Homo sapiens: one gene and its partner. The protein of the gene in region 1 purifies or fractionates together with the protein of each later gene. This does not show direct contact. Each region holds a gene or a part of one and is shown in the gene's direction. Other genes may lie near its edges. The genes, in order: CCDC34 and RABL2A.

Region 1 (15,683 bases):
GATTCATGGGTGTCAGGCTAAGGAGTTTGGATTTTATCCTGTGGGTAAAGATGCCATTGAAGAACTTTAAGATGAGGAGTGACATGATAGAAAGATAACATTTGAGGGATGAATCTGGCAAGAGGTGTGGATAATGATTTGAAAGGGAGAAAGGGAGGCCAGTTTTGTCCAGATGGTGGTTGTAAGGTTGGAGGAAACAAGAATGGCTTTCAAAAATGGAAAGAGGAATTAACATGACTAGGTGATCATGTGGGTATGGGAGGTGGTGGCGGTGGGGGGGGGGGGTCCACATGTTGACAAGGAGCAGGTGGAGTCAAAGAGCTAGGGCTTCTGGCTTGAGTAACTGGCTGGAGGGTGATAACATTCACTGACGTAGGATTGTAAGAGGAGTATACTTTCTTGGTGGGAAGGGTGGTGGGTGGATGGTAGAGGATGATTAGATTTGTTTTCAACTGATTGATATTTAAGTTGAGTTATGTATCACATAGTTGGAAATAAGGATCTGGAACTCAAGATGACGGTCTGGCCTGGAATTACTGATATAGACATCATCAGCATGTAGTGGTAGTTGAAACTGCACTACAGTGGGGGCAGATGGGTTCCTTCTGCAAGACTGGGAAGGAAAGACGCATATAAGAAATAACACATCAACAGTGTCTCTTTCCCACTAGAATGCAAATTTCATAAGGGCATGAATGAATGAAGAAATAATAGTAGCAGAAAATAATGAGTAAGCTGAATCTATGAAGTAGAAAAGTTGTGCAAAGCAGTGGGTGAAGCAATTGGTTGCTATAAGCAGGAATGTGAAAGAGACAAAGAACTGAGTCTGTAATAAACTAGTCTTTAGAGCTACCTTATGTCCTGAACAACCTTGCTTTCTATGGCTGCTGATTGTTAAGCTTTTTCTCAGTTTCATGAGGCTTGTGTATCTGGCCAAGACCCTGTGTTCTTTATTTATGTATATACTTATTTCCCTGCCCCTCTTCTCTTTACCCTGAATTGTTATTTTTCCTTACCCTCAGAAGAGACAGACTGACAGAGGTGCATGGTGGAGATGGAGACTATGGTAGGAGGTAACCAGACTAGAGAGTCATACACACCCTGTCTAAGGATTGGCAAAAGGGTGTCAACCAAAATGTTAAAGAATGTTTTGTGGCTTCTTATTTCAAAACAATTTCAAACTTATAAAAAAGGTGAAATAATATAAAGAACTTTCATTTACCCTTCACCCACAGTCCCTAATTGTTACATGTTTGCTCTATTATTCTCTTTGTGTGCACTACATAATCTTTTTTTCCTGAACTACTTAAGGGCGGGAAAGGGAAGAGTCTGCTTCAGTATCTGATTAGGATTATATGTTGTAATGAGTAATTAGTTATCCAGGTAAGATTTTTAGAAATAAAAAAGTGTTGGCATTGAGGCAAATGTATAGGGTGTGGGTTATCCCAATGGGGTTTTAAATAACGTGGTTTTAGAAGGTGAAGGAATTCAAAGGCAGTTTGATAGGTAAACTAATTCAAATATTAGAATTTCTTTTCATGATTTTTTAAATGTATACTTATGTATAATTCCTGTATATTTGTAAAAATCACAATATTGAAAATACACTATTAAGTTTTGCTTTTACTGTACAGTTAAGTGATTTGGACTAGGAAGCAAAAGAGGTTCTTGTACAAGTACTATAGTAGCCTCTCTTTTGTAGCACTCAGGTTGAATCAGAAAATAACCAAGAAGAACAGAAACAGGTGCGCTTACCAGAAAGCCGCCTGACACCATGGGAGGTGTGGTTTATTGGCAAAGAAAAAGAAGAACGTGACCGGCTGCAACTGAAAGCTCTAGAGGTAAAACTAGACAGTGTTCTTTTTATTTAATCTGTGAGCTCACAAAGTAGAGCTGCAGTTGTAAATTAAAATGTTAATGTTATTATTCCTGAAAACAAAGTCTTTGCATTTATGTTAGTTTACTATATCAAATTTAATAACTAATAAGTTATAATAATAGAAATATGTTCATTGTTAGAGCATTTGGAAAATACAGCTAAGCATAATTAAGAAAATTAAAATCTCTTCTAATTTCACTGTCTGAAGATAATCATTGTTAGTATTATGACATAGCTTTCCAGATTTTCTTCTATGTAAATTATTTTGAAATACGTACAAATGTATGTATAAGTTGTATGTCTACATACACTGGAGCATCAACATATGTACATTTAACTAAAGTAAATTCAACTGTATACACTCGGCAAAATTTTTAACTTTACTGAAACAAAATAGAGGCAAGAATCTACCTGCCCCCCCCCACCACCCCCAACCCCACCCCACCCCACCACCCCCAACCCCACCCCACCCCACCACCCCCAACCCCACCCCACCCCACCGTGTGTCACTCAGTGAGCATGTGCCCTATGTGCTGGGCGGTGGGAAACTGCTTGCTAGTCTTTCAGGGTGTTTCAGTTTCTCTGTGCCTCCCTCACTTATGGACATTTCCATGCGTGAGTCTCTTTTGAACTTTTACTATATGAACTCAAAAAATAAATAGTTGTAGATGCATTTTCACATCTCTTCTTTAATGAGAATATTCACATATTTTTTGAACTCTTACTGTTTCAGAACATGGCAACCAAATAGATTTGGATAATTTGGCATCCCCTAAACCCACTATCTAGACTATCTGAATTCTTCCTATCCAAACACTGAAGCCAGATAGATTTGAATGATGAGGGACACTTCTTCTTTTTAATGAAACAGGATAAAACTCTTTTTCTCTATCATTAAACATTTTTATAACATTTAAAAATGGCTGTCTAATATTATTTAAATATATTTAAAATGTATTACATATTTGTTAAAATATAGTTATCTGTTTCACTCTTGTTGGATGTTTCAGTCTATTAGTAACTGTTGCTAAAAAAAAATCCTGGGAATTGGCCGGGCATGGCGGCTCACACCTGTAATGCCAGCACTTTGGGAGGCCGAGGCAGGTGGATCACCTGAGGTTGGGAGTTTGAGACCAGCCTGACCAACATGGAGAGACCATCTGTACTAAAAATACAAAATTATCTGGGCGTGGTGGTGCATGCCTGTAATCCCAGCTACTCAGGAGGCTGAGGCAGGAGAACCACTTGAACCCAGGAGGCGGAGGTTGTGGTGAGCTGAGATCACACCATTGTACTCCAGCCTGGCCAACAAGAGCAAAACTCTGTCTAAAAAAAAAAAAAAAAAAAAAAAAAAAATCCTGGGAACAAAAGCTTCATGATCTTCCTTAGAATAACTTTTCTGTTAGTTTTGAAACCAGTTATTATTTGATAAGTTTCTAACCAGGCAAGCAGTCACATGTCCCAGAGGCTTGGCATAATTCAAATGATTATGAAAACTAATACATTCTGCTGTTTTCCTATTGTATGATACTTTGTATTCTAGATTACAAATTTATTCCTGGAAAAGTGCGCTGTGAGAGTGGCACTTATTTCCTCTTGACAGTACACAGGGCTTGAGAAAGACCTTACGGTTGATGTTAGGCAAGAATAATAAAAACCCTGGTTCTTTTTATTTGCTGGGTGTAAGCAAGTTATTGAAACTTTTATGTTTCTATTTTCTCGTCTGCTTAAGAGGAATAAAATAATACCTGTGTCACAGGGGTTTTGTGAGGATTAAATGTAACAAAGTATAAAGATGCCTGGCTTTGTTTTTATTTGTATTGTTATTTATATCATTACTATTCATAGTCTTCTTAAAGCTTTTTCATTTATTTTCAGAATTGGGGTGTATTTTTGAATTCCCAGACTTACTTCTCTTACCTCAATGACTAAGTCCATTATTTAGTTAGTAGCTTTTAAGAATATTTGTTCATAGTGAGCACTCTATTTTTTTATGTTATAAAAACACATACCTACATATATCTCTCTATATATATGTATTTATACATATGTATGTGAAATAGCATCTTAATTTTGTGCAAAACCTGGTATTCTATTCTTTTTTCAAAAGGCTGGTCATAATTCATTAAATTGGTTTTAAACTTACAATTCGGAAAATACTGATCCTGTGAGTTAATGGTAGAACAAAATTCAATTTCTGGTATTGGGCTTTATCTACAGTCTCACAAGAAGTTACTTGTTATATTAAGAAAAGGAGGGTCACTTCCAGTCATTTTTAGTCAGTGTACAGAGAGAAGTTAATTGAATTTCAGAAAGTTAGTAAAGCCCGGGCTTGGTAGTCACACAGAACAAGGCTGAAATTTTAGCCTTGCCATTCTAATTCTGTGACATTAGAAAAGTTAATTAACTTCTCTGAGCCTCAGTTTCTTCATCTATAAGCCAGATGTTAGAGAGACAATAGTGGAGTAGTTAAAAGTGTAAATTCTGGGTTTTGTTTTCGTTTTTTGAGACAGGGTCTCACTCTGTCACCCTTGCTGGAGTGTAGTGGCGTGATCACAGCTCACTGCAGCTTTGACCTCCCCTCCTCTTCCACTTCAGCTTCCTGAGTAGCTGGGACTGTAGGCACACGCTACCACGCCTGGCTAATTTTTGTTTTTATTGTTGTTTGTTGGGGTGGGGGTGGGGGGGTTGCCATGTTGCCCAGGCTGGCCTCCAACTCCTGGGCTCAAGTGACACCTCCCAAAGTGCTGGGGTTACAGGTGTGAGCCACGGTGCCTGGTTTAAAACCATAAATTCTTGAGCCATACTTCCTGCATTCAAAATTTGGACTTTGGGCAAATCCTTAACCTTTCTGTGTCTCAATTTCCTTATCAGTGAAAGGGGGAGGATAATATTTGCTTCATAGTGTTGTTATGAGGACTAAATGAACATCAGGATATGGACTAATATGTACAAAGCACTCAAAGTTATTATATGTGAAAGGAGATCATAATAACTGCTATGAAGATTTGTTTTGAGAACAGATTAAAATAATAAATATAAACCCTATCACAATGATAAGCATGTAGCAGGGTATAATTATTTGTAATTTGGTTCAAAGATTAAAACCTTTTTATATATTTAGTAGTTTGACATTTCTTATGGCTACTTTATTACTCAACTCTGAAGTGATTCAGTTTTAGCATGACTCTTACATATCAGTTATGCCAGGGATATCCTAACATATAGGCCAACTACTCAGCTTGTTGTAAGCTCATGTTGAGCTCTTGTGGTATTCACATTCTTTCACTGCCTTTTCCTTTATTTTGTTTTTATCTCATGTTTTCCTTATTTTTCTGTATTTACTGTATCCCTAATTTGTTTATAAACCATATCAAATTTTTAACCATAAAGAATAGTCATCTCAGATCCCTATTAAAACTAAAAAGCATGAAAGGCAGAAAAGTAATTTTGCCAAGGCTTCGTCCATGGCAGAACTGGGACTGGCACCTAATTCTTTGACTTCCATTTAAATGCTTTTCCCACAATATCAAGATGTATTTTAGAAATAAGTGAGTCAGACTTAGTATTTATTTTTTAATGAACTCTGGCTTTCGTATTTTCTTCCTTTAAGATTTAAGAGAACATTTGTAGGATAATTTAATCATTAAAAAGATCATCCACACTCATAAATTTGATTTGAGCATCAGACATTTGGTTTGTTTCAGACATCTCTGTGGGACTAAGTTAAAAAATTATTTTAATTCATAAAAATTACCCACTTACAAAATGGTATACATTTGTAACTTTTGTTGAGATGATAAATATGGTAAATATTGAATCAATTATCAAGCATTATGAAAAACTAGTATATTGGTTTTATAGGTCATTTAATTTTTATTTACTTTTTAATTATTATAAATAATTATTTAGCCAACTGCTCCAGGTTCTCTATGGTCATTGGCTGATTCTAATTCTTAATATTTGCTTTAATATTATAATCAGTTGTAAATTATAAAAATTACCTAGTTTGTGAGTAGTCCTGGTGCCTTCTTTTTTCTTTTTTTTTTTAACCATCTTGCCTTTGGCCATTTTATTCATTAGCCCTTAATGAGCCCTTAACGAACGAATAGGGCAGGATATAGAGCTGTTGGTGAAACTCAAAACTGTCAGTTTTTCTGATTATTATTACCTTCAGTGGTAAAAAATTATTTGAAAGTAGGCAAAACCTATTAAAATAAAAATGCATGTTTAAGATCTTCTTTGGATTTTGGTTTTCCATAATCAAGTGTTGTATTCCACGGGAAAATATTAATAGCTATCTGTAATCCTGTTGAAATTCAGTGGTATACCAGAAGACCATGTAGGGGCCTTTCGAAGGAAGACTCCAGCTGTGTCCTGAAGGAGACTGGCCTTTGTGGTAAACATGGAGTCATTCAGGGTGGGAAATTCTAAGAAGGGCCAGACTTGGAAGGGAGGGTTGTGTCTCAAAATGTGATGTATATTCTGGTTTGACAAATTACTTGAACAGACATCCAAGATTAGAACACTGTTTGGGTTATTGGTAGCATTTTCTAGATACATTTTGACCCTTTTTCTTTAACCCTTCAATCAACATTAACTAAAATTTGTTAGCCATCAAATAGGAGTACAGGGTTTCTTTTTTTCTGATTTTTTAGTTTAGGTAAATGAAGAATCTTAAAAGGTACATAAATATATAGTCAATCATGTCTTTAGTTATACATTTAAATAATTACTTTTCTTGAAAATAAAATTTGGGACTATTTTGGAAAATTTTTGATATGTAGTTGTCAGGTCTATATCTAGCCAATTAATTAATGTCTTTCATATTTATATATTTGTATATATACACACATGCACATATAAACATACATATATACACATGTATTTGTATGTGTACATGTATATATATGTATAATTTTTCCCCCTTTTGTTTCCTAAGTCCAAACCCTCTTTTCCTTTTCCTTTTCCTTTTTTTTTTTGAGATGGAGTCTCACTTTGTCACCCAGGCTGGAGTACAGTGGTATGATTTCAGCTCACTGAAACCTCTGCCTCCCAGGTTCAGGCGAGTCTCCGGCCTCAGCCTCCCCAGTAGCTGGAATTACAGGCGCCTGCCACCACACCTGGCTAATTTTTGTATTTTTAGTAAAGACAGGGTTTTACGATTTTGCCCAGGCTGGTCTCGAACCCTTGACCTCAAGTGATCCATCCGCTTCAGCTTCCCAAAGTGCTGGGATTACAGGCATGAGCCACTGCGCCTGGCCCAGAGGCCCAGGCCTTCTTTTTCTTATAACTCATATACTATGGCACACTCTTCGTCAGTCTTCCTCAGAATAGTTCTCATCCCTTCAAATGCAGTCTTCAGCCTTTGTCATTAAGAGCTCTGAATTTTCCCTTTTGCCGGGTATTCTTGTTTCATATAGTTCACTTTACTTTGCCTGTCTCAAAAGACCTTCTCCATCTACCTAGTACCACGCTCAAATTTTCTACCCCCTCCCACCTCCCAATCTCTCTCCTTTCGAAGCCATCTTTTCACTGTTCCTTGTATGGTGCTCATTTCTGACTAGCCTGGTAGACTAGGCTAGGGGGAAGGAAAGATGTTTCTCCTCATCTTCCCTTCCCTTCTCTGAACTTTTATGATATGCAATAACTCGCAATGTAGCACTTATTTCTTTAGTGTATAGAAAATCAGATCAGAGACTTCTGGGATTTCATCTTTATATCAGATTTATATCAGTTATTGCTAGGTCCATAGTAGGTGTACCATAAAAGTATACTGAGTAAGTCATCAAAGAACAATAGCTGCTGAAGTGATGAAAAATCCTTAAAGATGGATATTTGCTTTTGGGGGTATAGTGTTTAAAAGTTGGAAGACTTCCTGAGTGAGGGCGGCTATCTTCTATGCAGCAGAATTTTAGGATGAGTGATTATGGAAGACAGATTTCCTGTGACCAGTTGTTTAAAATGCAAAAGAGATGTTCTTGGTGTCAAGTTTTATCTTCATTTAAGACACTGGAATTAGTCTGAGGGTTGGAAAATTGTCTTTCCCACTACCACCCATGCCCAAGTAGGTAGGTCTTTGGGAAAGAAAGGGCTATGGAGGAGTGTGGAGACCAACAGAAGATACGTAAGGTATCTGACTATTAGTATCTAAAGACGGAGAAGAAAAATAACCAGTAATTATGGTTGTGGAGTCCTAGTGAAGTCTAGTTTGAACAGCATTCTAAACCAATGCAGTAATTTAACTGATGAGTGACAGAGTGGTGGCATTCAACTTGTAGTTTTATTTGGCCATACCTTTCACATTCTTTTTCCTGAGGAAATGCCCAAACGTGTAGATTCGAGTGACAGCAAGGCAGTTAAATAATCTGGGATATGAATGTGATTTTGTTTTACACTTCAGCAGCTATAAAACCAGTGAAGAAAACTCTGGGTTCTTTTTTCCCTAAGGAAAATTGAATGGTTTCTTTGTATTTCTTTTGTGTAACTGAATTAAATTTTTAATATAGGGATTATTTAATTTCTATGCTTTATCTTCATCAGGAATCCAGAAGCTTCTTATAACTGTTTAAAAAAAAAAGTTGCAATTCTCTTGAGCTTCTGCCAGTAGCTTAGAGTGATGCCAAAATTTATGTGTGGGAAAGTTGATTTCAATGAGGGTAATTTAGCTGAAGTTTAGTCTAGGAAACTAGTGTTTTGCTGCCAAGCAATTATTTGCACATTTCTAAAAAATGACTTATACTTTTACCAATGCTTTTTTTCATCATAGACTGGTTACTTAAGTAAGTTATTGCCACTAGTGGCATATGCTCCATAAAGGAAACTATATTCTTGTTTAATTTGGTTAATAACCTCAGACTTTTAAAATGTATGTTATTTGGGTACTTCTATTAAATGTTGCCTTTTGTCTAAATAAAATCCACAGGAATTAAATCAACAACTAGAAAAAAGAAAAGAAATGGAAGAACGTGAAAAAAGAAAGATAATTGCTGAAGAAAAGCACAAGGAATGGGTTCAGAAAAAGAATGAGCAAGTAAGGAGGGGAAAATGGATACACACATTGACATCTCTTTTGCAAAATATTTCTTCCTATTATACTTCATTACCTAGGTTTTAAAAAATACTTCTCTTAGAGTCTTTCTTCTTTGGCTTGTTTTGTTTTTCTATCCTGGTGGACATTTATCAAGTCTCTATCTTCTGCCCTTTGCCCTCTACTTTTCTCCTTTTTCCCTCCTGTGGCTTGCACTAATATTTGCCTGCAGGCAGTCACCAAGTCTGTATTTCTAGGCCTGACCTTTTGGATCCTTATGGCAAGTGCCTCCAAGTCTGCAAATCTAAAACAACCCATTTTGCCCATTTCTCCTTCGTAAATCCATCCTCCCATTTCTCTGTTTCATTCAGCTGTCTTCTCGGTCATCAAGGCTTAATTAGAATTCTTCTGTTGTTCCTAATCATCTCCTCCTTTTCTTTACAATTACTACTCCCCTGTTTGTGATCTCTTTCCATTATATCTTTCAACTTGTTGTTTACTTCTTATACTGGATTGTAAGCTACATAAGGGCAGGGATTTTTGCCTCTTTTGTTCAGTTTTCCAGGAGCTAGATGAATACCTGCGCATGATATATGTCCAAAAATAGTTTAATTGAGTGAAGATGTTCATTGAATGGCTGCATTTTTTCCTTTTAATTTTAATATATTCTTCTATGGATCACACACATTCGAAATTTTAAAAATACTTATTCTGTGGTCAATTTGTCTTCTGTTGTGATTTTTACATATTTAGAGTGGTACTGCTTTTATTATTATAATCCAGTTTTACAAATGTGGAAAAATGTTTAAATTGTAGGACAATATTTTAAATTTTAATTCTAACTTTTTATCTTTATTGTTGAATCTAATGCCTAATGGTATTAATAAGAGTACTAAGTAAATAATTTCAGTAAATTGAAGATGATATAACCTTCTTCATCCAAGTATTATAAGAAGGAAATTGGTTAGATGTATGTGTGTTATAACCATATTTGTTTAGAAGTCAATTACTTTGTTTTTTTAAAAAAGTTTACTTCATCCCATGATATAACATGAAAGAGATCTTTGTGAATAAATTCAAAAATCAAAATAAATCTCTGTGACTGTTATAAAACTTTGGGTAATATCTTTTTGAAATTTGTAACTATAAAACAAAATTATTTTACACATGCAGAATAGTTTGCTCTTTCCTCTAAAAGTCCTTCTTATCTTCTAACTCCATTAAGCTAATTTTACCATGCCAATCAAACCTAGTTGTTGTTTGTCTAGGAATGTAAGATACTTCTGGGAGACAATATATTCACTGTTTTAATTAGTGGCAGTAGACCTAATCCAATTATTTGAAGAAAAAAAAAATTATTTCTTTTGGAGGGAAGTGGCTTGCCCTGACATAAATCACTAGTTATTGAAGGCAAAATTCCGTAATGTTGAGAATTATTTAAAAATAAAACTGAGACGTTATATTTACCTGTTCTGCAGAACTCTTGTTCATGTTAAGGAATAATTGATTATTCTTTTTTTTTTTTTTTTTTCTTTAAGACCTATCAGATTTCTTCTTTCAGACATAGTTACATTTACCTCTATTTGTAAAGACTGCTCTCCTGGTTCTTCTCTTCCTGTCTGGCATCTAGCTTTTTTCTCCTCTGTTTACATTTCATGGTGTGTGGTCCTCAGCTGCCTCCAGCTTCATTCACATTTTAGCTGTATCTGTGGCTGCTATTTTCTCTAAGTCATATTCACTGTGTTTTATCAAAAAATCAGACACAAAGAATTTATGCATTCATTAGCAAAGCTAGTTTCTTATAATATGACTGTAAATTCTTAAGTGCTTTTAAAATAAATGTTCTATCTCATCTGGTACTCCTAACATTTGTGTTGCCGTGGTAATTTATTTTCTGGATGTGTTTATTACAGTGTTATCACATATTTTGTAAAAGGTCCTTTACTTTTAATGTTTTTAAAAATTATTTAAAAATAAAATCGTTTTTCGTTCTCAAAACACAACTGATTTTCTAATGTAAGACATTAATTCAGATCAACAAGGTATATGATGGATAACACTGTTATCATTGCATTATTCATGCTTTCAACAAATATTTACTCAGCTTTTACTGTGTGCGAGGCACTATTGGAGAAAGCAAAACAGAAATCCAGAAACTTTAAGTAGCCAATTGTTATGTTAGTTTCCTTTAGTTGTATGAAACAAAGGTTCTCTCGGTGCAGCGTCTTTAAAAAAGGAAGATTTATTGTTGTGCTCTGTGTGGTGTAGAACTAGCGTGCCAGAAAATCTGAAGCCACTTAGTGGCTGGTTCCTCTCTCGGTAGTAGTGACTGCTCTGAGTGCCTGTTGTGTCTTCCTTTTGCTAACTAAAGGCATTCTGTTCACACTTCTTTAGTTTAAATCCTACAGAAGTCTGTCTGATTTTTTTTCAGAATTAATTCTATTGAGCTGTAGTTTGCATACAATAAAATACAACTATTTTAAGTTTGATGACTTTGGCAAATTTAGGTACCCATGTAACCATCACCATTAAAGATACAGAACATTTCCATCACCCCAGAGAGTTTCCTTTTGCCCCTTTGCATTCACCCCCACTCCCTGCCCCCAGCCAGCCTCAGCTCCAAGGAAACCATTAATCTGCTTTCTGTACTTGTAGATTAGAGTTGCCTTTTCTATAATTTCATATAAATGGAATGATAGAATATATAGTCTTTTGTGTTGGTCTTTTGTTTTAAAACTTATCCTGATATTTCATGTATTATTCCTTTTTATTGCTGACTATAGTATTCTATGAAATACATTTCATAGAATATGTTTATCTGTTTCATTCAATTTCATAGAAATTGTTTATCTGTTCACTAGTTGATGGACAATTGAGTTGTTTTCAGTTTGGGATATTATGAATAAAATTCTGTGACCACTCATGTACAAGTCTTTTTGTGGACACTTGTTTTCATTTCTCTTGTGTGAATGCCTAGGAACTAAATTACTGGGCTATATGGTAAGTATGTGTTTAACTTTATAAGAAATTGCCAAACATTTGTCTAAAGTACATGTACCATTTTACATCTCCACTACTATTATAATAAGAAAGTTCCAGTTGCTCCACATCTTTGGCAGATTTGGTATGGCCAATCTTTTTCATTTTAAGTCCTTCTAGTGAGTGTGGAGTGGTATGCCATTGTTTTAATTTTCATTTCCCTGAGATCTGATGATGTTTAGCGTATTTTCATAAGCTTATTATATTAGTCTTCTAGAGCTTCCATAACAAAATACCACAAATTGGGTGGTTTAAACAACAGAAATATATCTTTACTCACAGTTCTGGAGACTGGAAATCAAGATAAAGGCATCTGTAGGTTTGGTTTCTCCTGTGGCCTCTCTCCACGGCTGTCTTTTTATGTCCCCACAGGGCTTTTCTCTGTTCACATATATCCCTGGTGTCTCTTCCTCTTCTTGTAAGGACACCAGTCCTATTGAATTAGGGTCCTACCCTTATGACCTCATTTAAACTTGATTACCTCTTTAAAGATGCAATCTCCAAATACAGTCACATTGAGGATTAGGGATTCAACATAGGAATTTGGGAGAGGGGCAGGAATACAATTCAGTCCATAACATATATTGACCATTTCTACATCTCTTTTGTTGTTGGCTTGTTTTGTGTTGTTGGCTTGTTTTGTGTTGTGTTAAGTCATTTGCCCATTTTTGAAGGGGTTGTATGGCTTATTATTAAGATATGAGAATTTGTATATTCAGACTATAAGTCTCTTCTCAGATATATGTATTGCAAATATTTCTTCCCATTTAACTTTTCCTTTTTTCCTTCCTTCCTTCCTTCCTTCCTTCCTTCCTTCCTTCTTTCCTCTGTCTTCCCTCCCTTCCTTCCTCCCCTCCCCTCCCTCCCCTCCTGTTTCCCTCTCTTCTGTCTCTTTTTTTTTGAGTCAGAGTCTCACTCTGTTGACCAGGCTGGAGTGCAGTGGCATGATCTTGGCTCACCGCACCTCTGCCTCCCGGGCTCAAGCAATTCTCGTGCCTCAGCCTCCTGAGGAGCTGGGATTATAGGAGTATACCACCACACCTGGCTAATTTTTGTATTTTTAGTAGAGATGGGGTTTCACCATGTTGGCCAGGCTGGTCATGAAATCCCCATTTAATTTTTCTTAATGGTATTTTTTTTTTCACTAACAAGAAGAAGCACTGATTAATGGTATTTTTTAAAGAGAAGTTTTAAATTTTGATGAATTTCCATATTTCAGTTTTTTTAATTGTTGGTAGTTTTTGTATTCTATTTAAGAAATGGCCATCAGAGAAATGCAAATCAAAACCACAATGAGATACCATCTCACACCAGTTAGAATGGCAATCATTAAAAAGTCAGGAAACAACAGGTGCTGGAGAGGATGTGGAGAAATAGGAACACTTTTACACTGTTGGTGGGACTGTAAACTAGTTCAACCATTGTGGAAGTCAGTGTGGCAATTCCTCAGGGATCTAGAACCAGAAATACCATTTGACCCAGCCATCCCATTACTGGGTATATACCCAAAGGATTATAAATCATGCTGCTATAAAGACACATGCATGTGTATGTTTATTGCGGCACTATTCACAATAGCAAAGACTTGGAACCAACCCAAATGTCCAACAATGATAGACTGGATTAAGAAAATGTGGCACATATACACCATGGAATACTATGCAGCCATAAAAAATGATGAGTTCATGTCCTTTGTAGGGACATGGATGAAGCTGGAAACCATCATTCTCAGCAAACTGTCGCAAGGACAAAAAACCAAACATCGCATGTTCTCACTCATAGGTGGGAACTGAACAATGAGAACACATGGACACAGGAAGGGGAACATCACACACCGGGGCCTGTTGTGGGGTGGGTGGAGTGGTGAGGGATAGCATTAGGATATATACCTAATGCTAAATGAAGAGTTAATGGGTGCAGCACACCAACATGGCACATGTATACATATGTAACAAACCTGCACGTTGTGCACATGTACCCTAAAACTTAAAATATAATAATAATAAAATTAAAAAAAAATGTTTGCCCACCACAAGAGGGTAAAAATACTCTCCACTGTTTTCTTCCAGAAGCTTTATAGCTTTAGCTTTACCTGTATGTCTATTTGAGTTTAATTTTAATGTATAGTATGCATTAACGGTCAAGATTCATTTGTTTGCATGTGGATATCCAATTGTCCTAACAATATTGACAAGATAATCTTTTCCCTATTAAACTACCTTTGGCACCTTTGTTTAAAATCAATTGACCACATATTTATAGGTCTGTTTCTGGATTCTAGTCTATTCTATTGATTTATATCCTGTGCAGTACCACACTAACTTGTTAGTATAGTTTTATAGTTCTGAATTTTATTATTCTTGAAATCAGATAGTGTAAATCCTCCAGGTCTTCAATTCTTTTTCAAACTTGTTTTAGTTGCCCTGCATCTTTCCATATACAGTTTAGAATCATCTTATCAATTTCCCTAATAATGCCTGTCCTAATAGTGCTTGGCACTATTGGGATTCTGCTAAATATAAACACATAGATCATTTTGGAGAAAATTCCTATCTTAATAATATCAAATTTTAAATCTATAAACATGGTTTTTCTTTCCAGTTATTTATGTCTTCTTTAATTTCTCTTAGCAGTGTTTTTTAGTTTTCAATGTATAGCAGTATTTTGTTAAATATATTTCTCAGTATTTCATGTTTTTGCTGATGAGGGCAGTTATCTTGCCTTGTTCCTGATATATAATATATATTTTATATATTTACACGTATGTACAACACAGGTTTATAGCATATATGTAATGTACACATGTTTATAACATGTAACAATGCGTATAACACAAGTAACATGTTATAGCATATATGTAACACACATGTTTATAATATATAGCATACATGTTTGTAACATGCAGCATGCATGTGTTTATAACATGCAGCATGCATGTGTTTATAACATATACATATGTTTATAACATATATATGTTTTTTTCCCAGCCACACTCATATGGAACGTTTCTGATATCACCTTGTAATTTCCATGCCTGGTTTTGATGTCAGAATAATGCTGGACTCTTAAAATGAGCTTTGATATGTTTACTTTTTCTCTGTGTTCTAAAATCATTTTTTTAAGGTTTGATACTATTAAGATATGCCACAATAATATTTTATGTTATTAAAATATGGAGTATCTTTAACTGTAATGGAATCAACTAGTGAAGCTTTCAGTGACTGGAGTTTTTGTAGGAAAGTTTTTAATTTTGAATTGTTTTTATAAGTAGAGGATTATTCAGACACTACTTTTTCTCGAATTCATTTTGGGAAGTGGCATATTTTAAGGAATTTTGACATTTCATTTAAAATATTGAATTTATTGGCATAAAATTGGTTTTAACATTCTCCCATTTTGATTTCTGTATGATGTCTGTGTGATCTGTCACTCACCGTCTCTATGACCTTAGGCAAATTAGCCTCCATGTGCCTTAGTTTCCTCCTTTGTAAAATGGGATAATAATGGTATCTACCTCACATCATGATTATAAGAATTGAGAGTGTGTACAAATAAAGTATGTAGAATGGTAACAGGCATAGTTAGCACTCAATAAATGTCAGCTGCTATAATTAAAAACAATGTAAGAACTGGTTGATTTCTTATAGGTAAAGTTGTGGAGGACAGTCATGAGTCACATGGAGATTAAGCAAGATGTACTCCAAGGTCCTTTTCAATTTGTAGATCTTCTGACAG
Region 2 (15,310 bases), on another chromosome or scaffold:
ATTGTCTGTAAATACGCACGGCCTTACCTTGGCACTGAGAGAGATGCATGGCTGAGTAGGTGTCATCTCATCTGTAAGAAGCAATAGCAGAGGGGATGCAGAAGGAGCTGCTCTGTTCTGCTCATTGTCACCTGCTCCTCTGCACACCTTCCTTCATGCTCTTCCCTCAGCCTCTCCCCAGCTCACACCCCTTTATTTGAAACTCTGCTCATTTTTCAGGCCCTGCTTCAATGCCACCACCTCCGTGCAGCCTCCTCTGATGTTTGTCATTAGCTTAGCTCTTCCGTGTGTGCTCCTGCACCACTGATCCCTTCCACAACATGGACTGTCTGTGATGCACGTGTGCAGGATGCTGGGAATGCCCAGGTGGAAAGACACACGTGCTGCCCCCAGGAACTGACTGACTGGTAGGCACAGTACAGATACCAGTGGTGAGGACAGTGAGGATTCTTCCCTTCTGACCCTTTGCAGATGGTAAAGGAAGGAACTCGTCACCTAATTCCCCCGACTGCCCGTTAAGAACAAAATCCCTTGAAAAATTCCAAAAGCTTTAACTCTGATAACTGTTAAGGTACTAAACAAGAGGATAATGGGGCAAGGAAAATGGGGGCAGTGTAGTGCAGAAGTCTGACCCTCAAGAGCAGAGGAGCTTGGTCCTAGCCAGTTTGGTTTCAGGCCTACAGTGGCATTTGGTATTTTGAGCTCACCTCTCTTTTTCTCTTGGAGTGACTGCTTCCTGCATCTGCTGCATCTCCGTGGGCTCCCCTCAGACCCTCTTCTGAAGGCCTGGGGTGTCTCTCCTGCCACCATGCCTGTGTCTGCAGGTGCCTGCCACCAGCCCCAGTCTGCTGCACGGGCCCTGGCAAGTAGAAAGCACTTGCCTTCTGACCACACGGGGAGCTGAGGGTCAGAGACGGAACCAGGGCTCGACCCTCCACCTTGAAACCTTGAGATGGGGATGCTCCTCATTCTAGCCAGTTCCTCCTCAGCTCTCAAAACAAGGAACAGATGCTCAGGAAACCAGATCTGGACAAAAGTCATCTGAGCCTGGTGTGAGGCAGATTCCAGAAGTTTAGTTACAGACATCCTTTATAAGGAGACTTCATCGGGAATTCAAGACAACCTGGTGATTCATTGAAATTTGCCTGTGAAAGAGAATCTACATAGACTTCCTGCCACCTCTTGAGATGTGACAGTTGCTGACCCTCCCGCCACCACACAGGGCGAGCCCCTAGCCCTGAGCTTGAACCATGTTGCTTGCACAAATAGCTGGGTGATTTAGAAGTGAGGTCAGCTGTGCCAGCAGTTACAGGGTGGTGGTTGTCTGTAACTTTAATCCACTGACTGTTGTACTAGGGCAGTTTGGGCTAGACACTTTGGAGGAGCTCCTGTGAAGGGCATGAAGGCTCACTGTAGCAGCAGCTCAGTTGTCTTTCAGAGTTCTGCCCTTAGAGCTGGTTTGCAGTGCTCATCCTTCTTGCTGATATTTTAAAATAGGTAGAAACAGGCTGGGCGCGGTGACTCATGCCTTTAATCCCAGTACTTTGGGAGGCCTAGGTGGGCAGATCACCTGAGGTCAGGAGTTCGAGACCAGCCTGACCAACATGTTGAAACCCCGTCTCTACTAGAAATACAAAAATTAGCCAGGCGTGGTGGCGCGCACCTGTAATCCAGCTACTCAGGAGGCTGAGACAGGAGAATCGTTTGAAGACAGGAGAATCGTTTGAACCCAGGAGGTGGAGGTTGCAGTGGCAGTGAGCCAAGATACCGCCACTGCACTCTAGCCTGGGCAACAGAGCAAGACTCCATCTCAAAATAAATAAATAAATAAAAATAAAATAGGTAAAAACAAATTATAAAGTAATACAATTATGAACTGCAAATAATAAAACATAAAAATTACTTTAAAAAAATTTAAAGAGGCCGGGCACAGTGGCTTATGCCTGTAATCCCAGAAATTTGGGAGGCCGAGGCAGGAGGATCACTTGAGCCCGGGAGTCCAAGACCAGCCTCGTTAATATAATGAGAGCTTATCATCTCTACAAAAAATAAACAAAATTAGCCAGGCATGGTGGCATGTGCCTGTAGTTCCAGCTACTCAGGAGGCTGAGGTAGGAGGATCACTGGAGCCCAGGGGGTGGAGGAGCAGTAAGCCAAGATTCTGCCACTGCACTCCAGCCTGGCTGACAGAGTAAGACCCTATCTCAAAAAACAAAAAGCAGAAAGAACAAAGAAGTAAACAAAAGCTTAAAAGTAAATCAGCCAGGTGCAGTAGCTCATGCCTGTAATCCCAGTACTTTGGGAGGCCTAGGCAGGCAGATTACTGCAGGTCAAGAGTTTGAGACCAGCCTGGCCAACATGATGAAACCCTGTCTCTACTAAAACTACAAAAATTAGCCAGGCATGGTGGTGCGCACCTGTAATCCCAGCTACTCCGGAGGCTGAGACAAGAGAATCGCTTGAACCTAGGAAGTGGAGGTTGCAGTGGCAGTGAGCCAAGATAGCGCCACTGCACTCCAGCCTGGGCAACAGAGCAAGACTCCATATATGGAGATCCCTTGAGATCAAGAGTTCGAGACCAGCCTGGCCAACACGGCAAAACCCTGTCTCTACTAAAAATAAAAAAATTAGCCAGGCATGGTGGCGCACACCTGTAGTCCCAGCTACTGAGGAGGCTGAGACAAGAGAATCACTTGAACACAGAAGGCAAAGGTTGCAGTGAGCTGAGATTATGCCACCACACTCCAGCCTGGGTAACAGAGTGAGACTCCGTCTAAAAAAAAAAAAAAATCGGGCAGTTGTGATGGCTAACACCTGTAACCCCAGCACCTTTAGAGGCCCAGGTGGGAGGATCCCTTCAGGCCAAGAGTTTGAGATGAGCCTGGGTAACATAGGGAGAGCCTGCCTCTACAAAAAAAAAAATAATAAAAAAATAAAAATTAATGCGTGCGTGCTACTTGGGAGGCTGAGGTAGGAGGATTCCTTGAGCCCAGGAGTTTTGAGGTTACAGTGAGCTGTGATTGAGCCACTGCATTCTAGCCTGGGTGACAGTGAAACCCTGTCTCTAAAAAGTAAATAAATAAAAGTAAATAGTAACTAAAGTAAAACTCTAGAAACATTTACAGTTACTACAGAGGAACTTTAAAACAGTTTAAGCAATAAATACAAGAGGACTAAAAAACACAAAAGTTTTTACAATTTCTAACAGACTGCATCAATTGGCAAATTGATTCCATTTATGATTGTTAAAATAGGTGAATAAGATTAGATGACAAGATAACAAAAAAGGAATACGTTATTTATTTGTTTATTTCAGACAGAGTTTTGCTCTTGTTGCCCAGGCTGGAGTGCAATGGCATGATCTGGGCTCACTGCAACCTCTGTCTCCCTAGTTCAAGCAATTCTCCTGCCTCAGCCTCCCAAGTAGCTGAGATTACCGGCATGCGCCACCACGCCCAGCTAATTTTTTGCATTTTTAGTAGAGACGGAATTTCACCATGTTGGCCAGGCTGGTCTCAAACTCCTGACCTCAGGTGATTGACCCGCCTCAACCTCCCAAAGTGCTGGGATTACAGGTGTGAGCCACTGCACTGGGCCAAGAATAAGATTTTTAAAAACATTTTCGCATCTGGAGGCTCCAGGGGGCTTCCCTGAGAAACGGCAGCCTCTGCGGTCAGAGAGGCTGCAATTCAGAGCGTTCCCACAAACAGCACCATGTGCTCATGCTTACCTGCTTGGGTGTGTGAGTCACCTGGAGATGGGGTGCAGAAACATTGACATACCTGAGCTATCTTTCTTCCTCTGCCCTTTGCAGGTGTTTGATATACAGAGGAAAGTCACCTATAGGAACCTGAGCACCTGGTATACAGAGCTTCGGGAGTTCAGGCCAGAGATCCCATGCATCGTGGTGGCCAATAAAATTGATGGTGGGGCCATCCCTGCACCTGGGTGTTAGCAATTCACTGGGGACCTGCCCTCATACATTTCCTCCTCCATTCCCCGGGCAGGCAACCTTCAGTGATTGGTCCTCCCTCCCACGATAAGATACAACCCTTGGTTGGTTGCTTGCATTCTTCCCACCTTATAAAGAAGCCAGCTAAGCCGACCTGCCCTCTTTCCAAGACACAGATCCCTATTAACTGAGCTCTTTCTAGGACATGTTTCCCAATCATCCCTGCCTATCCCACTTTCTGGAATGAAGGCCTCCAGTGGCCCCCCCTCCAAACCTTCTTCCCTTCCCTTGACAGACCAATGTCCTACCTTCTCTCTACAGCAGACATAAACGTGACCCAAAAAAGCTTCAATTTTGCCAAGAAGTTCTCCCTGCCCCTGTATTTCGTCTCGGCTGCTGATGGTACCAATGTTGTGAAGGTGTGGTTGACTGCAGAGGTAGCTAGCAAGGTCAGGGCGCTAGGTGGTAAAGGGAAGCTGTGAAGAGAAGGGCTTACTGCAGGTGTGATGGAGAGAACTGGGACAGTGCATGGGCCTGGGTGGCAGGGAGGGGAGGAGCTGATGGGCCTGGACTTGATGAGGCAGAAGTCCATTGACCATACATAGGTCAGGGTGACGGGGAGAGGCAAATGGAGGGGTAAGGTTGCTGATTTTAGGAATGGAGTATTGTGTAGTCTCACAGTGGGGCCAGTGGGGTGGACTGGGCAGAGTCCAAGGCACTCTCATCCACCATCTCTACCTCACCCCCAGCTCTTCAATGATGCAATTCGATTAGCTGTGTCTTACAAACAGAACTCCCAGGACTTCATGGATGAGATTTTTCAGGAGCTCGAGGTAGGTCAGGTCCACATTTCGGGTGGGATGGAAGAAACGGCTCCTCTTCAGGGATAGGGACTACAACCCAGTAGAGTGACTCTTGCCTAAGTTTGCCCCACTAAATGTATCAGAGCTGCGGTTGAGCAAATGCAGGGCCAGGCCTCACCTGCGACCTTGTTCACAGAACTTCAGCTTGGAGCAGGAAGAGGAGGACGTGCCAGACCAGGAACAGAGCAGCAGCATCGAGACCCCATCAGAGGAGGTGGCCTCTCCCCACAGCTGAGGGGCTGGGGCTAGGGGTGGGTGGAGCCCTTTTAAAATACCCTTCCCTTCAACAACTCTCCAGCTCTGAATGGAGAAACTCTCTAGGCCATCCCCTCTTCTACCTCCTGCAACCCACCCATCCTATTAGCCTCCCACATTCAAGGCCCGTGATACAGGGATGAGGTCAGCACCAGCAAACTCTGGACTGGTGGAAGAATTCCCCACCAGATCTCCTTGAAGCAGAATTAGGGATCAGCATCATTAACACCTTCCCCACCCCCTCCCCCCAGGCAGACAGTGAAGAGAATCAGAAAACATGATTATGTGTCACTTTAATACAGGAAATTTAGGTGTTTTTTGGTGTTTTTGTTTTTGTTTTCTTTCCAAAGCTCACCTCGGGGACAATTCCTTGGGCTTCTCCTGAGGTAATGATTACCCCCCCACCCACAGCTGAGTCTGTGAGGCCCCATCCTTTCCCTACGTTTTCTCCCATCTTTTTTCCTCTTCAATCTCCCAGTCATCTGGTTTGTTTGTTTCTTTGTTCGTCCTGAGACGGAGTCTCGCTCTGTCGCCAGGCTGGAGTGCAGTGGCGCAGTCTCGGCTCGCTGCAACCTCTGACTCCCTGGTTCAAACGATTCTCCTGCCTCAGCCTCCCGAGTGGCTGGCATCACCACGCCCAGCTAATTTTTGTATTTTTAGTAGAGACGGGGTTTCACCATGTTGCCCAGGATGGTCTCGATCTCCTCACCTCGTGATCCGCCCGCCTCGGCCTCCCAAAGTGCTGGGATTACAGGCATGAGCCACCGCGCCCGGCCCCAATCATCTGTTTTTAAACAATCGTTTTTGAGCAGATAGCTATTCATTCCAGATTTCCGTGTACCCACTCTGTTTCAGGAGCTCTTCTAGGTAAAGCTGAGATCACAGGAACAGCAGGTGACAGGCCTAGCTATAGTTAGGAATACACAAGCGGTAAAATCGAGTCCTTACAGCCATACCACAAGGTACGTCCATTTGGACTACAAGAAGAGCTTCCTTTAAAGTTCCTATTTCAGCATAAAGAGGCTGTCCTTTTTTTTTAGGAATAGTTTGGACCTTGTGCCTCCTGTGGGAGGCTGAGGACTGCAAGAGGAGAGCTAGCAGATATGCCTGTTCACCCCTCTCTGGTACTTGTGGCTTGCTAGTATGTTTTTATGATAATCTCGGGCATTGTTTGCATTGTGTTTATTAATAGGGTTTTGTTTTTATTGTTTCCTTTTTTACAGTAAAGGCTGAATGACATAAACATTGAGTAAATGTATGTGCTTTGTGGCTCTGAAGTGTGTACTGAGCAAAAAGACAAAAGAATCTGCAAATCATCACCCTTATCAATGAAGGGTAGCTGCCTTGACCTGTTGCAGGGTAGCCCATGTTTACTCTCAATTCACTATATTGGAGGCCATTTCAGTGGAATTTAGTGTTTTCAAAAGAATTCAATTACCTATTAATTTGGGAGCTCAAGAACAAGTACATTTCCCCTTGAAATCAGCAATACTTAGATGTTCAACGTAAGATGTTTGACCTGACCAGGGGTTCCCAGGAACGTATACCCTGATGAGGTAGAACTTAAAAAAATGTAGTTACTGTAAATAACTACTAAGTACTTTAAAAAAAATACAACAGCCTTACTGAGATAGAATTTGCAGACTATAAAGTTCACCATCGTGTTGGTTTTATGGGACTATTCTGTATCAGGTTCCTTAGAAGCTGACCCTGAGAAGGCCGTGGTTCAAATGACTTAATTAGGGTCATTCTCAGAAGAGTGAGGGGGGCAGGAGACAAGAAGCTCAGCAAGGTTGTGGTCTCAGCTGGAGGCCGGCTTCACCACCCCACCCCGTCCCAGGGAAGCTCTGGAGGGCAAATTGCCCTCCAGAGTTAGTCCTACCTCAAGACCAGGGGCCTTTTGTGCCCTTCAGCCAAGGGTGTGAGGTGGAAGGGGGCCTTCTGTTTCAGTAAGGTCAGTTCTCTGGGGAAAAGGGTAACTGTGCGCTTCCAACTCAAAGCAATTGGAGGATGAATGTTTAGGCAGGGTGCCAGCAACATCCACAAGCCACCCATGTGTACATTGCTCAGATCCACCTGCTTCTTAAAGTTCATTCCATCCAGGTAGAGCTGCTCCATGTTTCTAACTGGTCACCAGTCCTGGGGGAATGTACAAGAGAAGGGTCAATGGGAAAGGACAAACCATAGCCCCTGCTATTGTAGTTGGACCCCATGCAGAGACTGATACTTGTCACCTCTCATTCTCTGGCTAGCACTTTTGCTGGTCTAGGTTGTTTGCCTGGGGGGTTGATCCTGCTCCTCTTGCCTAATGGGGTATGAGCCCCTGCTTACTATGCCTTTATGAGGCGGTGGTTGTTAACACTTACATAGTTATATCTAAACATGCAAGTACCAAGAGACAGCATGAATCATCTGAGTACCAAATACAGTGCTCCTTCCTATTATTATCTGGCAACATCCTTTCTTCCTAATGACGATTACAGGCAATCACCTCTTTCCAGAATGCTAACTCTGCTTGCCAGTTACAAGCGCATGGACTGTCTAGGAAGCAGCCATAGCTTTGTGTTTAGTGAAACTCTTACTGTATCACTTGGTGGAAATGCCTCCCCCACTCCCCACACTGCCACTCACAGAGTCCAAGACTTCAGCTCACAGAGCCTAAAGCTGTAGACACAAACACAGATTCCCCAAGTGTGTCACTGAGAGTGCTAGCGAGCGGGGCGCTCCTATGTCCACTCCTTGGTTACTAGACATGTTGGGGACATAAAACCATATAATGAATATTAAGTTGTATATCACATCATGAAGGACCCCATCCTTACAGGGTATCATATCCGAGATCGACATCTCTGCTATCCACAAAGATAGGAAAGACTCAGAAGTGGAGTGACATCAGGAAAATGGCAGAGTAGACAGCTCCAAACTCCTGTCCCTCTACAGAAACATGGAGAAAAAGCAGCAGAAACTTTACCAGAACTCTGGAAAACAGTAAAAGACTTATATCAATCAGGAAAGCCCTGAAATGAGGAAAGGGCAACTTCAAAGTGACAGAAAAGTGGTGTGGCATTTTCACTTGCCCTTGCCCCACCCCTTCATCAGCTTGATGGTGATCTTGAAGATAGTAGTCCATTTTCCCAATTTAGGACCCAGGTCCCAGGTTCCAGAGGGAGCAAGGCAGACCTTATTCACAAATGACTTTGTTTGTCTATTCTAACCGGTCAGAAACGATCTGAGAGACTAAAATGAGGCATTTGTCTGTTTTGCCCAAGTCTGAATCCACTCAAGGTAGAAAAGTGGCAGGCATTGCTTAAAAACATTCTGAGATGACCAAAAAACCCACAGCTCCCTGGGACAAAAAGTTGTGGTTCAGACATACAATATATTACATAAAGCCTGGGAGGAAAATCTGGGAGAGTTTCTTTGGGAAATCAGGACATTCAAAAAATACTTGTGTTTATTGGGGATTTCAAATGTCATGCACATACCCAGGGCAGGTCACGCATTCAGGAAAGATCTGAGAAGACCCTAAGCTTTTTCCTTTGGAAGATCTCTAGGTCCAGGGTTATCAAGAAGTGAAGGCTAAGACAGAGTTGTTAATATCCTGGTTAGGTGTTGAAGGAATGCCCCAGCACAAAGCCAATCTGCAAAGATTGAAAGAGATGCTTAAAAAAATTTTTTTTTTCAACCACGGATGAATACATAAAGAAAATGTGGCATATACGTACAATGGAACATCATTCAGCCTTTTTAAAAAAGGAAATCCTGGCCTGGCGCAGTGGCTCACGCCTGTAATCCCAGCACTTTGGGAGGCCGAGGCCAGCGGATCACAAGGTCAGGAGATCGAGACCATCCTGGCTACGGTGAAACCCCATCTCTACTAAAAATACAAAAAAAAAAAAAAAAAAAAACTAGCCAGGCATGGTGGCGGGCACCTGTAGTCCCAGCTACTTGGGAGGCTGAGGCAGGAGAATGGCGTGAACCCAGAAGGCAGAGCTTGCAGTGAGCCTAGATCACGCCACTGCACTCCAGCCTGGGCAACAGAGCGAGACTCAGTCTCAAAATAAAATAAAATAAAATAAAATAAAAAGGAAATCCTTCCATTTGCAGCAAATATACTAAGTTAAAGAAGCCGGACACAGTAGGACAGATACTACATGATCTCACTTACATAAGGAATCTAAAATATTCAAACTGAGAAGCAGAGAGTAGAATGGTGGTTGCCAAGGGCTAGGGGGAGGAGGAAACAAGCAGGCATTGCTCATTGGGTGCAAAGCTTCAGCTATGCCGGAGGGATGAGTCCTAGAGACCTCCTGTACAGCATAGTGACTATAGTTAACAACACTGTATTACATACTTAAAGATTTACTGGAAATAGATCTTATGTTAAGTGTCCTTATCACAAAACATGAGAATTAGAAATGAAGAGAGAGGGAGCAAACTTTTTGAAGTGATGAATATGTTTATGGCATTCATTGTGGTGACGTTTTTATGGGTATATACTTATTTCAAACTCATCAAGTGGTATACCTTAAATATGTATATCGATAAAATGGTTTTTAAAAATACATGAAGCAAATGCACATTTCTCCAAAGAAAATATACAAATGGCCGATAAGTACATGAAAAGATGCTCAACATCATTAGTCATGAGAGAAATGCAAATCAAAACCAGAATGAGATGCCACTTACTGGTAATGAAAAAGATAATAGCAAGTGTTAATGAGGCTGTGGAGAAATCGGAACCCTTATACACTGCTGAGGAGGAAGTAAAATAGTGCAGGCACTTTGGAAAACAGTTTGGCAGTCCTGGAATGGTGAAATATCGAGTTAACCATATGATCCTGCAAATCTACTCCTAGGTATACACTCAAGAGAAATGAGAACATGTGCTCACAGAAAAGCTTGTATATGAGTGGTTATAGCAGCACTATCCATAATAACCAAAAAGCTGGAAATAATCCAAATATCCATAAAATGTGGTATATCCACACGATGAAATATTACTCAAAAATACAAAGAAATGAAGTGCTAATATGTGCTACAACATGGATGAAACTGAAAAAAAAGTATGTTGAATGAAAGACGCCACGTATAAAGCACCGCAGGTTGTGCGATTTCATTAATATGAAATGTCCAGAACAGGCAAATCTACAGAGACAGAAAGATTACTGAACAGAAAGATTACAGACAAAAATAACAGATAGTGGTTGTTTAGGGTGGGGGGGTTGCCGGTGAAGTTGGGAAGGAATTTGGTGGGGGCCAGGAAGCTAAGGGTACAGATTTTCAAGTAACGAGAATACTTTAAAATTAATTGTGGGTGGGTGCAGTGGCTCACGCCTGTAATCTCAGCACTTCGGGAGGCCAAGGAGGGCAGATCACTTGAGGCCAGGAATTCAAGACCAGCATGGCCGACATGGCAAAACCCCGTCTTTACTAAAAACATTAAAATTAGCTGGGTGTGGCGGCACATGACTGTAGTCCCAGTTACTAGGGAGGCTGAGATGAAAGGATCGCTTAAGCCCAAGAGTTCAAGGCTGCAGTGACCTATGATTGCACCACTACACTCCAGCTGGGATGACAGAATGAGACCCTGCCTCTAAATAAAATAAATACATAAATAAATAAGAGAAGTCCAGCAGCATATTAAAAGGATAATACACATGACTAAAGTGGAGTTTATCCCAGGAGTGCAATGTCAGTTAAACATTTAAAAATTATTTAATGGGGCCGGGCGCGGTGGCTCACGCCTGTAATCCCAGCACTTTGGGAGGCCGAGGCGGGCGGATCACGAGGTCAGGAGATCGAGACCATCCTGGCTAACACAGTGAAACCCTATCTCTACTAAAAAATACAAAAAAAATTAGCCGGGCATGGTGGCGGCCACCTGTAGTCCCAGCTACTCGGGAGGCTGAGACAGGAGAATGGCATGAACCCGGGAGGCGGAGCTTGCAGTGAGCTGAGATCGCACCACTGCACTCCAGCTCGGGCGACAGAGTGAGACTCCGTCTCAAAAAAAAAAAAAAATTAATGGGCCTGGGCACGGTGGCTCACGCCTGTAATCCCAGCACTTTGGGAAGTCAAGGTGGGCGGATCCCGAGGTCAGGAGTTCGAGACCAGCCTGGCCAACATGGTGAAACCCCGTCTCTACTAAAAATACAAAAAATTAGCCAGGCGTGGTCGTGGGCGCCTATAGTCCCAGCTACTCGGGAGGCTGAAGCAGGAGAATCGCTTGAACCCACGAGGGGGAGGTTGCAGTGAGCTGAGATCACACGCCACTGCACTCTAGCCTGAGCCACAGTGCAAGATTCTGTCTCAAAAAAAAAAAAAGTATTGGAAGCAAGAAAAGGATAAACTAAATCTTGCGGTACTGGATAAGAGGTGAAAGTATTATCGTGAACTCTCATTTAGCTTTATATATATATAAAATGGATAGATACAAAAACAATAATAGATACATGTGTGTACATGGGTTAGTATACAACATATATTACCTAACTGTCTCATCCAGCTTTGAGGGCTTAGAAGTAATACATCTCAGTATTGACAAGCACACCCAGTGTCCAGATCTTAGTTTCTAAAAAAACACTTTCCAGTGAAAAAACCAGATTACTTTAGAGAAATGGTGGATTCCAGGGTTGAAGCAGGGGAAATGCAAAATGAGCCTGTAGCACCTATTATATCAGAAAGGAAGGATGTGCTCAACAAATTAAATGAAGCCGGGAATGAAGCCACGGGTGCAATGGCTCACACCTGTAATCCCAGCACTTTGGAAGGCAGAGGTAGGAGGATTGCTTGAGGCCGGGAGTTCAAGACCACACCAGCCTGGGCTGTAACATAGAAAGAACCTATCTCCATAAAATAAAAATAAATTAGTAATAATTTTTTAATTTAAAAAATGATGAAGGCATGTCAAAGGGACTCAAGAGCCAATATGAAAGGGCTCCCAATGGGCAAAGCTGGAAAAATGTGAGCAACAAATTATATAATGTCATATTGGTTTATAGTCCACTGTATAAAATAAATATACATTAGGGATCTACACTAATATAATGAATAGATGAATAATAAGAGACAAATCTTTCATACAGAAAAATTAAAAATACTATGTGTAACTCCTGCCATCTGCAGGGGGTGGAGCCAACACCCCCAACCACCATCACTACAGAGAATGGGCTGGACTGAGTGGCTCACTTCTAAAGAAGCACTTATAGAAAGCGAACAGTGATGAAACCCAGAAAACACTGCCCTGACCAACGGATCAAGGTTAATGTCATCACTGTTGTCATATGTATGTTGTAGACTCCTGATAGGATGTGATGAGGATAATTTGTCTCTATGAGACTTTTTCCCAAAATTCATAATCCCAATATAATCATGAGAAAAATATTACACAAATTCAAATGGAGGGATATTCTACAAAATACCTAACTATCCCTCAAATTTGTCAAGGTCATATAAGAGCAAAGAAAGACTGAGAAATAGTCTCAAACTAGAGGATTAAATCTGTAACAATCTGTGACTACTATAAATCTAAAGTTGTTCTAAAATAGTTTATTTAATACACCAGATTAACTAAGTAAAAACAGAAAAATTACATGATCATCTCAATAAATGTAGGAAAAGCTGGCAAAATTCAACACTCATTACTGTGTAAAAAATAAAAATATAAACCTCTTAGCAAAAATATAAACCTCTATATTTTTCTTAGAGAATAAAATATCCTCAGCCTAATAAATGGTATTTGTGAAAAACCCACAGTTAACATCACACTTAATGGCAACAGACTGAAGCTTTTCATGCTTAAGCTCAGGAACAAGAATGTCCACTCTCACCACTTCCATTCAGCATTGTACTGTGAAATAAGGCAAGAAAAACAAGGGCTTTCAGATAGAAAAACATAAATAAGGTTGGGCGTGGAGGCTCACACCTGTAACCCCAGCACTTTGGGAGGCCGAGTTGGGTGGTTCACCCGAGGTCAGGAGTTCAAGACCAGCCTGGCCAACATGGTGAAACCCAATCTCTACTAAAAATACAAAAATTAGCCAGGCGTTCTGGCACATGCCTGTAGTCCCAACTACTCGTGAGACTGAGGTAGGAGAATCACTTGAACCTGGGAGGCAGAAGTTGCAGTGAGCCAAGATTGTGCCACTGCACGCCAGCCTGGAAGACAGAGCGAGACTCCATCTCAAAAATAAAGAAAGAAATAACACTGTCTTTATTCACAGAAGACTTGATTGTCTATGTTGAAATCCAGTGGCAGCTACAGAGCACCAGAATTAATAAATGAACTTGGCATGGTTTCAAGATACATGGGAACCACACAAAAATCAATTGTATTTCTGTATACTGGCAGTCAACAATTGAATATCAGAATACGAAATATTGAGAAATAATTCTGACAAAATATGTGAAAAACCTGCACACTCAAAATTACAAAACATTGCTGAGAGAAATTGAAGCAGCCCTAAATAAATGAATAGATACCCTGAGCTCATGACTCAGAGGACACAGTACCCTAAATAAATGAATAGATACCCTGAGCTCATGACTCAGAGGACACAGTACCCTAAATAAATGAATAGATACCCTGAGCTCATGACTCAGAGGACACAGTACCCTAAATAAATGAATAGATACACTGAGCTCATGACTCAGAGGACGCAGTACCCTAAATAAATGGATACACTGAGCTCATGACTCAGAGGACGCAGTACCCTAAATAAATGAATAGATACACTGAGCTCATGGCACAGAGGACACAGTACCCTAAATAAATGAATGGATACCCTGAGCTCATGACTCAGAGGACACAGTACCCTAAATAAATGAATAGATACCCTGAGCTCATGACTCAGAGGACGCAGTACTCTAAATAAATGAATAGATACCCTGAGCTCATGACTCAGAGGACACAGTACCCTAAATAAATGAATAGATACCCTGAGCTCATGACTCAGAGGACGCAGTACCCTAAATAAATGAATAGATACCCTGAGCTCATGACTCAGAGGACGCAGTACCCTAAATAAATGAATAGATACCCTGAGCTCATGACTCAGAGGACGCAGTACCCTAAATAAATGAATAGATACACTGAGCTCATGACTCAGAGGACGCAGTACCCTAAATAAATGAATAGATACCCTGAGCTCATGACTCAGAGGACGCAGTACCCTAAATAAATGAATAGATACCCTGAGCTCATGACTCAGAGGACGCAGTACCCTAAATAAATGAATAGATACACTGAGCTCATGACTCAGAGGACGCAGTACCCTAAATAAATGAATAGACACACTGAGCTCATGACTCAGAGGACACAGTACCCTAAATAAATGGATACACTGAGCTCATGACTCAGAGGACACAGTACCCTAAATAAATGAATAGATACCCTGAGCTCATGACTCAGAGGACACAGTACCCTAAATAAATGAATAGATACCCTGAGCTCATGACTCAGAGGACGCAGTACCCTAAATAAACGAATAGATAGCCTGAGCTCATGACTCAGAGGACGCAGTACCCTAAATAAATGAATAGATACCCTGAGCTCATGACTCAGAGGACGCAGTACCCTAAATAAATGAATACATACCCTGAGCTCATGACTCAGAGGACGCAGTACCCTAAATAAATGAATAGATACCCTGAGCTCATGACTCAGAGGACGCAGTACCCTAAATAAATGAATACATACCCTGAGCTCATGACTCAGAGGACGCAGTACCCTAAATAAATGAATAGATACCCTGAGCTCATGACTCAGAGGACGCAGTACCCTAAATAAATGAATAGATACCCTGAGCTCATGACTCAGAGGACGCAGTACCCTAAATAAATGAATAGATACACTGAGCTCATGACTCAGAGGACGCAGTACCCTAAATAAATGAATAGATACCCTGAGCTCATGACTCAGAGGACGTAGTACCCTAAATAAATGAATAGACACACTGAGCTCATGACTCAGAGGACACAGTAACCTAAATAAATGGATACACTGAGCTCATGACTCAGAGGACACAGTACCCTAAATAAATGAATAGATACCCTGAGCTCATGACTCAGAGGACACAGTACCCTAAATAAATGAATGGATACCCTGAGCTCATGACTCAGAGGACACAGTACCCTAAATAAACGAATAGATACACTGAGCTCATGATTCAGAGGACGCAGTACCCTAAATAAACGAATAGATACCCTGAGCTCATGACTCAGAGGACGCAGTACCCTA

What was found.
Region 2: the proteins of CCDC34 (region 1) and RABL2A purify together in Homo sapiens (affinity purification with mass spectrometry; 3 studies listed by BioGRID and IntAct, with this or other methods). This does not show direct contact.

What each region holds. Positions count from the first base shown.
Region 1 is NC_000011.10:27,343,561-27,359,243, reverse strand, and holds part of CCDC34 (coiled-coil domain-containing protein 34), read left to right. Parts: intron 1-1,702; coding exon 1,703-1,841; intron 1,842-8,804; coding exon 8,805-8,912; coding exon of another isoform or gene 8,913-8,996; exon of another isoform or gene 8,997-10,375; intron 10,376-15,683. UniProt on the Homo sapiens protein: Involved in spermatogenesis. Has a probable role in anterograde intraflagellar transport which is essential for the formation of sperm flagella.
Region 2 is NC_000002.12:113,637,080-113,652,389, forward strand, and holds the end of RABL2A (rab-like protein 2A), read left to right. Parts: intron 1-219; exon of another isoform or gene 220-3,757; coding exon of another isoform or gene 3,758-3,814; coding exon 3,815-3,926; coding exon of another isoform or gene 3,927-3,955; exon of another isoform or gene 3,956-4,273; coding exon 4,274-4,371; coding exon of another isoform or gene 4,372-4,401; intron 4,402-4,701; coding exon 4,702-4,785; intron 4,786-4,951; coding exon 4,952-5,050; 3' UTR 5,051-6,110; coding exon of another isoform or gene 6,111-6,116; 3' UTR 6,117-6,313; downstream 6,314-15,310. UniProt on the Homo sapiens protein: Plays an essential role in male fertility, sperm intra-flagellar transport, and tail assembly.